Linked DNA regions of Homo sapiens: regions 2 and 3 are each linked to region 1. Evidence: fine-mapped expression QTL. A gene starts in region 1. Each other region holds a variant in brackets. All regions are shown on one strand. Distances are between the middles of the regions.

Region 1 (2,765 bases):
TATATTGTGCCTTGGGAACTCTAATTTAGCACACACCAGCACTATACTAGCGCCGTAGTTTTTCTACACCATGGACACAAAAAACATTAAACAGTAAAATAAAAGGCAGATTTTCAGGAGGTTAAAAAGGTTGGAATTAAATTACCCGGCCAGCGCGACAGTTGTCAAAGCTGTACTTCGGACTCCCTGGTTCCATTCCTCCCTCCTCCTCCCGTCCCAACGCCAGAGCGGAGGTGGGGAGGGGGCAAGATGGGCGAGGCAGAGATGCTCTCCCAGCCGCCGGTTCTTCCAGCGCCGCGCACCTGCCGCCCCTTCCTCCATGCGGTCGCTGCAGCCTTCCCGCCGGACGCCTCGCCCCCCCGGGCAGGGGCGCACCTGGACCACCTGCCTCCCCGCCTCTGCCCCGAGCCTGCGGGGGCCAGGGGAGCCCGGCGCGCTGTTGTTTTTTTTTTTTTTTTTTTTTTAAAGTCAGCCTCCTAGAGGATGTTGGATTTGGCGGGTGTGCTCTTTGAAATACTATATCGGGAACCTCACACATAATTTTTTTTTTTTAATTGCAAACCTTCCCAGTTCACTCCGCAGCTGGAGAGCAGGCCGGAGGCGGCGTTCCCCACCCGTCTCCCTCTTTGTCGTCCCCTCCCCGCGCCCGGAGCGGGACTCGCGGGAGCCGCCCACTCCCGGCGCCCACTTGGTTCCTCCCAGCTGCCGTGTGAATGGGCCGTCCTCCGGATTCCGCGGAGGGGGCGGCGGGAAGGGGCCGAGCCCCGGGCCCAGCGGCCGCCCCCGCCCCCGCCCGGCGGCGGCCCACGCCGGGATCTGCGTCACTCGGCCGCGCGTGGGCGGGAGCCGGAGCGGCGAATGTAGCAAGAGCGGAATCTCCCAATGTGACAGCGCGGGGTGGGGGAGTGGAGGCGGCGGAGGCGGGCGGGGGAGGGGGAGGAGGGTGTAGCGCGCGCGGGGAAGGCAGGGGAGGGGAGGGCAAGGCGCGGCGGGGGAGGCGCTGCCGCCGCCGCCGCCGCCCGCGCGCCGCAGCCTGGAGGAGCCGCCGCCGCCGCCGCGGCCAAGCGAGCGCCGTCGGGGCGGGTGGGCGGGAAGAAGCGGCGGGCCCGAGGTGGGGGGGAGCAGAGAGAGCGCGCCCACCACCTTCCCTTCCCCCCTCGATGGGAGCGGGGGCGTCCCGGCTCCTGCAGCCGCCAGAGGAGGGAGAGCCGGGGGCCGTCGCTTCGGAGTTGGGGCTGAGCAGTCCTCGGGGAGAGCGCGCCAAGACCGCTGCAGCCGCTGGCTGAGTACGTACCGGAGCGGACGGTCGCCACTCCCGGTCCGCCAAGTGCGGGACACTTTCGCGGCTGAGCGGCCACGGGCGAACTTGGGGCGGCTGAGTCGCGGGGCCACGCGGGCACTTTGGGGGCGGTGTCCGGGGGAAGCGGGCTCCGCGCGGCCGCCGCCGGAAGGAGAGGGCGGCCCCGGGCTCGTGTGGGCGATTCCCGGAGACATTCTGTGTGCCAGGGCGGCGGGGAGCGCGGCCCTGACTCGTGCATTTTCCCTCCGAGAAAGGTTGGGGTGCCGAGTCCGTTTTGCTAACGGGGCTGGGGGCGTCACACGGCGCTCTGGGGGTGTGCGATGTGGGTTGTGCGCGCCGGCCCCAGAGTTTTGCAGCCACCTTCGTCAGGGCAGTCTTTTTGTTTGTTTACTTTATAAAAGTGCTGCACTTACCGTCTCGATTTTCTTCTTGGGTATCTTCCCTTTCCGAATGTAGTTTTCTTTTTAAAAGCGGAAGGAGAGTTTTACATGGAAGTGGCTTACAGAAACTTGGCGCTGAGGTGCAGGGAAGCCAGAAACTCTTTGTGTCTCTAAGGCCGATGAGGAATTTGGAAACACATGTGGGACATACAAGCGTTGGATATAGAGGTGTGTGTGTGTGACCTTATCATGGAGAAACACTGAAAATACTATCAAATCTTTGTGGTCTGCAAACTCAGAGCTTCCAAAGCTTGAGATAGGAAATGACACTTCTGTTAAGCCTGAATGTTGCAGGATCTCGGGGAAAGGGATAGTTGAGATGGAATATACATTTGTCGATTCTGCAGACCAAGCTTTGCAGCGAGTGATCGGGAGGAATCGTAGACTTGCATGTACTTACACCTCGCTCCCTGAGATTCGGGAGGCACGGAAAATTTTGGGATGGCTGTTAATTTAAAATTTCATCTGAAAGAGTCGATTTGGAGTAACTTGTCACTACCAGTTGGTTTGCCAGTGACGTGTCTGCCAACTCAAAGAGTGCAAAGATCAGAAGCTGAAAGAGGAATTCTCAGATCTTGTTTAAAAATATTTTGGCAGTTTTAATAGATAATATGAGATTGCATAGGAACAGAGGAGCCGAATTTAAAATAGATTAGTCACGTAGGAAATGCTTAGCTGTTGTAAAAGTGTTCACGCAATGACTTACCTTCCTAGGTTTTCACTTTTTTGAAAATTTTTCCCTGAACAACATACTGAATTATGATATTTCATAATTTGTGTGTGGGTTATAAGAAGTATGAGGAGAGAGGATGCATAGGATTTGCTTTTTCTGTTTTGGGTGGAGATTGAGCTTTTCCTGAAGACCTGAAAGAGCTGCTTCTGATCTAATCTGAGTGCCAGTAAAAGTGGCTCTTAGATGAAAGGCTTTTTCTTCTCCATATTGGTGTCATTTAAGACATACAATATTATCTTTAAGTTTAAAAGATTATATTTTTTCATCGGTATTAACATACAAATAAGGGTTT
Region 2 (2,765 bases), 45 kb after region 1:
TAGACTCTTGTCTGGCAGAGAGAGGTCAATTTATATTCTCATTTATGTAGAAGTTTATGAAGACGTTTTTAAAACTTCACCATTTCTAAATATTAATAAAAGGAACATTAGGATTTAACATCTATAATACATATATGTATAATATTAATGTGATTTGGGTTCAGTGTTATGGGTTAATTATATGAAATTGAGCTAACCTGTAGTAAAGAACCAGGAAGAACCTTTCAGCAAGTATTGATGAGTTCTATAGATTAATGAAGATCATCAGTGTGCCAAGCACTGTGCTAGGTGCCAGGGAAGAGGTAAAGGTCACAAACGAAATATATGATCCTTGCCCAAAACCTAGCTGCGTAGGAACTAATACCACTCACATAAAAATTTCAGTGCCTTACATATTGGGATGAGGAGCTGACATTTAAGTGCATTCTGTATTAGGCAGACATTGTGGTAGCAGGCACTTCACAGGTGAGAGAAAGCACATTCAGTGAGTGAGATTCAGAAGAGATCGGTCAGGACTGAAATCAACATTCAGAGGTGGAGTTTGATAAAAAGCCATAGTGGCAGTACATTTCACTTTGAGGCTGCTTTTTTGTTGTTGTTTTTGTTGTTGTTGTTGTTAAATTACTGCAATTTTATTTTGAAACTGCATGGCAGTTAGATCTGCTTGCCTGGGTAATCATTCCTTTGACGATCCACTAAATCTGTCAAAAGGCAGCGGGGAAAGGTGCTTTTCATCTGTCCTTAATTAGTGAAACCACTTGGGTAAAAGCTTTAGGATTTGGTAATTATGAGACTACTAGCACCTAGTGTACCTTTACAACTATAGTTGACACTATTTAAGACTTAAAAGCTAAATAAGTATGCAGGGAATTTCCTAACTTATGGTCTGTCCACTTGGGTCTCAAAATAGTTAAGTATTATTAACACAATGCCCATTTTGCTTGTGACTTAATGTACTACATCAAGTCTTCAAAAGAAAACCAAGGTATTAACCAACCTGATGAAGCCAGAAGGTCTGCCTCTTTTAGGAAATCAATTCAATTAGTAAGTAGCTGAAGTTAGAATTGAACAAACCTTGTATGTTTGTAACAGCTTGAATGACCAAATACAGTAGTTGCTCTTTTACTAAAAGCCACCATATGGTCCAGCTGTGCATGGGTGGTGTTTCAGGGAATGCAAGCTTCTTATCTGTGGGTGTCCTCATAAATGAAATTTGTAAGTAGGCCTCCAAAGTTAATAAGAGAATGATCCAGTGCCTGACATTTTTATTGTAAATACAATTTAATATCAAAAATCTTACTGTTAACTATGTCCATAGTGATCCTGTAAGACAATTTTTTATTTCATGTAGAAGTGATCAAAAGCAAAATGCTGGAGCTAGGATTTTTCTTACTTTCTGAGTATGCAACAGTTAAACCTTTAAAACATCTTTGGGAGGCT[G/A]AGGCGGGCAGATCACGAGGTCAGGAGGTCGAGACCATCCTGGCTAACACGGTGAAACCCCATCTCTACTAAAAAAAAAAAAATAGAAAAAAATTAGCCAGGCATGGTGGCGGGCGCCCGTAGTCCCAACTACACGGGAGGGTGAGGCAGGAGAATGGCGTGAAGTCGGGAGGCGGAGCTTGGAGTGAGCCGAGATCATGCCACTGCACTCCAGCCTGGGCGACAGTGCAAAACTCCGTCTCAAAAAAAAAAATCTTTGGCATCTGTTTCTGCTGACCTATGACATTTTTTTTTTTGTGATCACCTCAAAGGTGTTTTTTTTGTGCAGAAAAGCCTAATCAGAAATTTATTTTTTAAGTTCATAATCAACTTATTAGAATGCAAAAATGTATTGTGCTTAAGGTTAAGTTCAGCTTACAAATCTTTACTTTCTAAGTTTAGCAAATCGTAATCACTTTTAAGGGAACTGTGAACTGGTTCTGTTTACAAAGTTGGTTAATTAAGCCTTACTCTTTTATAGTCTTCCCATCTGTTAGGTCACACAATTCTTAAGTGTTAAAACGATGTCCTGTTAAATTCTAGGTCTCCCAGCTGTGTTTGACTATTTGGTCACAATTTCCAAATTGTTATTCTGACTGCTAAGTGATTTACTTTCAAAGTATTGCTCCAATAATGTTAAAGGTCTGGCTTCTACCACTTCATCTTAAAGGAATTTTTAATGAGTTTTTTTTTTTTTTAGCAATTGGGGTAAAACCCTCAAGGAACATCAGACTCACATAAAATAGTAATCTTAGTTCTTATTTCAACATCCATATGAAATCCTTAGTTACCATTATTTTTCCATTTTATTCTTTTAATTTTAAAATATTTGACAAAAAGATATTGAAGTATACAGTGTGATGGTTTTTTATACCAGTACATTGTATACTGATTACCACAATCAAGACACTGAAGTGGGAAATTACCTCTCCTAATTTTTGTTGACTTTATATTTAGTGCACTTTAGTCAATTTAGTTATTAAATATCTTAAGAATAACTTTCAGTAAAATGTTTAAAAAATTTCCTCTGCACAGAGCATTATGCTACATTTATGTAAATCGAGAAACCTACCTAAATACAGTTTTAAGTTTTAGAAGTTTCTATTGAAATGTTTGCTTTATTATACAATTCTATTTAAGTTTTCCATTCTAACTTATTAAAAGAATCAGCTTCTTCAGTCTCTGAGAAGTAGTGATAGTTCAATGTTGACATCAAAACATAATGTTGCAAAATGTAGATTAAGTACATCACATTGGTTCAAGATGGTAGTGCCACACATGTTAAA
Region 3 (2,765 bases), 37 kb before region 1:
ACTTCAGTCTCCTATTAGTTCAGTTCATGCAGTTAATTCCTGTCCTGCTTGATACTAATGAATATTTTAACTCTTCAAGAGTCCTGAACGTTTTTCCTCTATTCTGATGTCACATCTCCAAAGTTATCAGAAACCTGCATTCAAGAGCACCTGTTAGAGCTTTATAGCTGATTATAAAATCACCTTCTACAGAGGACCAAAACAAGACAACAATTGATTATGGATGACAAAAAGTTTTAGGGTAGCCATAGTTAAACACACAATTGACAAGGATATCTGTTACCTCTGTGGCACACAATAATTTAACACAACAATTATAATTATTACTCATAACATACACTAAGATGTATCAGAATTATAGGAGTCTCCCATAACTTTGGAACACATACAAATAACATACTTATACAAATATAGCCCAAAGAAAGCCAAACACCATTTCATATTTGACAATGCTTTCTGTATAATATTTATACCAAATAAACCAAATTTCACCTTTACGTTAGTGTGCTATTAATGTTAAACCCAATTCTTAACAAATCCTTATAGACAGATTTACCCAATTTTAATGTTTGACCATAAGGTAAGATTTTGTATAGACCTTTTATAACCCTTTACAATTTTTGTTAAAGAGCAGGTTAGTGCTTTAAGAGAAACCCACTGTGCTTTTATTTTAATGTTCAATTTACAGAAAAACTGGATGATACCCCTTTAACTTTGGCCAATATGTTTACACACAAAATTTCCTTTATAATCAACCTTCCACAACTTGTTTAAATCTTCCTCTTTATTTTATCCAACTTAAAACAGTCCTTTAACCTTTTAATCTAGGCAAAAATCCACATTCTCATGACTCCTTATAATCTTTTTACTAGAAGTATATTTTGCTTTCCTTACACACCTTGCATGTAAACTGTTTCTTCAATAGTTTTAAATATATGTTACACTGTTAACTTTTAGCAACCTTTACTTTTGGTGAAAACCTTGGTAAGTTTGGGATTTTAATTATGTACTAGGTGTGGAGCCTTGGACCTAGGCAGAAATGCAGATAAGGTCCGACTTATTCCAGTTTCAAACTCCATGTGTCCCAGGCCTTACCTAGCTGTACACCAGGCAAGTTGTACAGCTAAGAGTCTTAGTGGCATTTTTATAAAACATTCAGGAGGCCTAATCACCTTCAAACTGTACATTTCTTTCCTTTCATAAATTCCCTTTCATAAATTCTTTCATGACTACACAGACAAGCTATGACATGCCTTGACTTGACTTTCTGACTTGTCCTAAACATCCCTCTTTTTTTTTTTTTTTTTTTTTGAGATGGAGTCTCGCTCTGTCACCCAGGCTGGAGTGCAGTGGCATGATCTCGGCTCACTGTAACCTCTGCCTCCCAGGTTCAAGCGATTCTTCTGCCTCAGCTTCCTGAGTA[G/C]TTGGGACCACAGGTGCGTGCCACCACGCCCAGCTAATTTTGGTATTTTTAGTAGAGATGGGGTTTCACCATATTGGCCAGGCTGGTCTCAAACTCCTGACCTCGTGATCTGCCCTCCTCAGCCTTCCAAAGTGCTGGGATTACAGGCGTGAGCCACTGCGCCCGGCCACATCCCTCTTTTTAAACAACCAGTTATTTTACTTTAGGACAAGAATTTACCACACAAGATCCTTCATTATATAAAATATCTTTTCTTTAATACCTTTTTGCATAGCTAGGGGCATGGCTAATTTCATGTGTCCTGAGGGCTTATCTAGAATTTAACACTCCAAAATAAATTGAACAATTTTTTAAGTCAAAAAAAGTTTATGACCTAAAGCATTTAGCAAACTTAATATTTGACCTGCATAATTTAGACCAAATGTTTACATTTTTGAAGATATTTTTATTTTACCAATAGACTTTAAAACTCTCTTTATTTTTACAACTTACTTTATATCTCTCTTATTTCCTGGTTCCTTTTACCTTGTTTTATATATAAAAAACCTTTAAATAAGCTTTGAATTAGACAAAAATTATTTACCCTTTAAAAAGGACACAATTTTTAGAATGAATGTTTTCCTACAATATATTTTAATTGGAAAATACCTAAATAATGAAATATCTGTTGTTTAATTTAATATAACTTTGGATTCTGCAAATATTTGTCCCATTACATTTATCTAATTATTTATTTTAATCATTTACCTATGTTATTTATGAAAACTGTGATAGTCATCATTAAAAGTTATGAAATCACCAATGCAAAATTATAACTGAGAGAGTGAAAATGATCTGACCTAACTGACTCCATCTTACTTCTTACCTTAAAGCTATTCTTATTCATTAACTAAGGTCATAGTTTAGTTTTGAAACAGAGATGATAACAGTCCTTTCCCAGGATGAACTTTCTTTATGTCTGTGGAATAGACTGCCTAAGGCCACAAGATTAGGGTATTTTACTAAATAATTCAAGATGTAGCTATCTTCATTAAACCAATATTAATGTTTTATTAAAAACATTATATTTATTAAAAACAAGCTATAAATAAAATAATGTTTTATTTATTTAAAAAACATTTTATTTATTAAAAACCAGCAAAGATCATTCTGTTTTGGGCTGAGTTATAGTTTTGTAGCCTCTACGCCAAATTTTGACACCTTATAGTATTTGACAGAGCTAAGTACAAAGTTGCTTGATCAATAAATGCAAACAAAAATGTATGCTGGCAACTCTTAAGACATTTCTAATATTACTTCACCAATAATTTATTTTTTTTTGAGATGGAGTCTCACTCTGTCA

Which allele goes with the higher level. Positions count from the first base shown, and alleles are read on the strand shown. Sizes are in standard deviations (SD) of each study's normalised expression. Not every link is listed here.
For the expression in vagina of the gene that starts at base 1,009 in region 1, allele G in region 3 goes with a lower level than allele C (small effect, 0.36 SD a copy in GTEx).

Evidence for each region. PIP is the estimated chance that this variant, and not a neighbour inherited with it, causes the effect. A credible set is the group of variants that fine-mapping cannot tell apart.
Region 2: its variant is the best candidate, but not a certain one, in a credible set for the expression of NAB1 in whole blood (INTERVAL, PIP 0.60).
Region 3: its variant is the best candidate, but not a certain one, in a credible set for the expression of NAB1 in vagina (GTEx, PIP 0.89).

Annotation. Positions count from the first base shown.
Region 1 is chr2:190,648,075-190,650,839 of GRCh38, forward strand. It overlaps NAB1 (NGFI-A binding protein 1), which reads left to right and starts at 1,009. Exons shown (of 10, transcript NM_005966.4): 1 at 1,009-1,286; 2 at 1,772-1,908. It also overlaps a transcript of NEMP2 not described here. RefSeq lists silencers at 270-319, 330-379, 460-509, 540-909, 920-1,519.
Region 2 is chr2:190,692,955-190,695,719 of GRCh38, forward strand. No RefSeq gene overlaps it. Among named protein-coding and RNA genes, the nearest start is that of NAB1, 45 kb to the left of the region's middle. The variant G/A (reference allele first, on the strand shown) is at 1,441.
Region 3 is chr2:190,610,863-190,613,627 of GRCh38, forward strand. The region is part of intron 4 of NEMP2-DT (NEMP2 divergent transcript); the gene reads left to right. It also overlaps a transcript of NEMP2 not described here. Among named protein-coding and RNA genes, the nearest start is that of NAB1, 37 kb to the right of the region's middle. The variant G/C (reference allele first, on the strand shown) is at 1,424.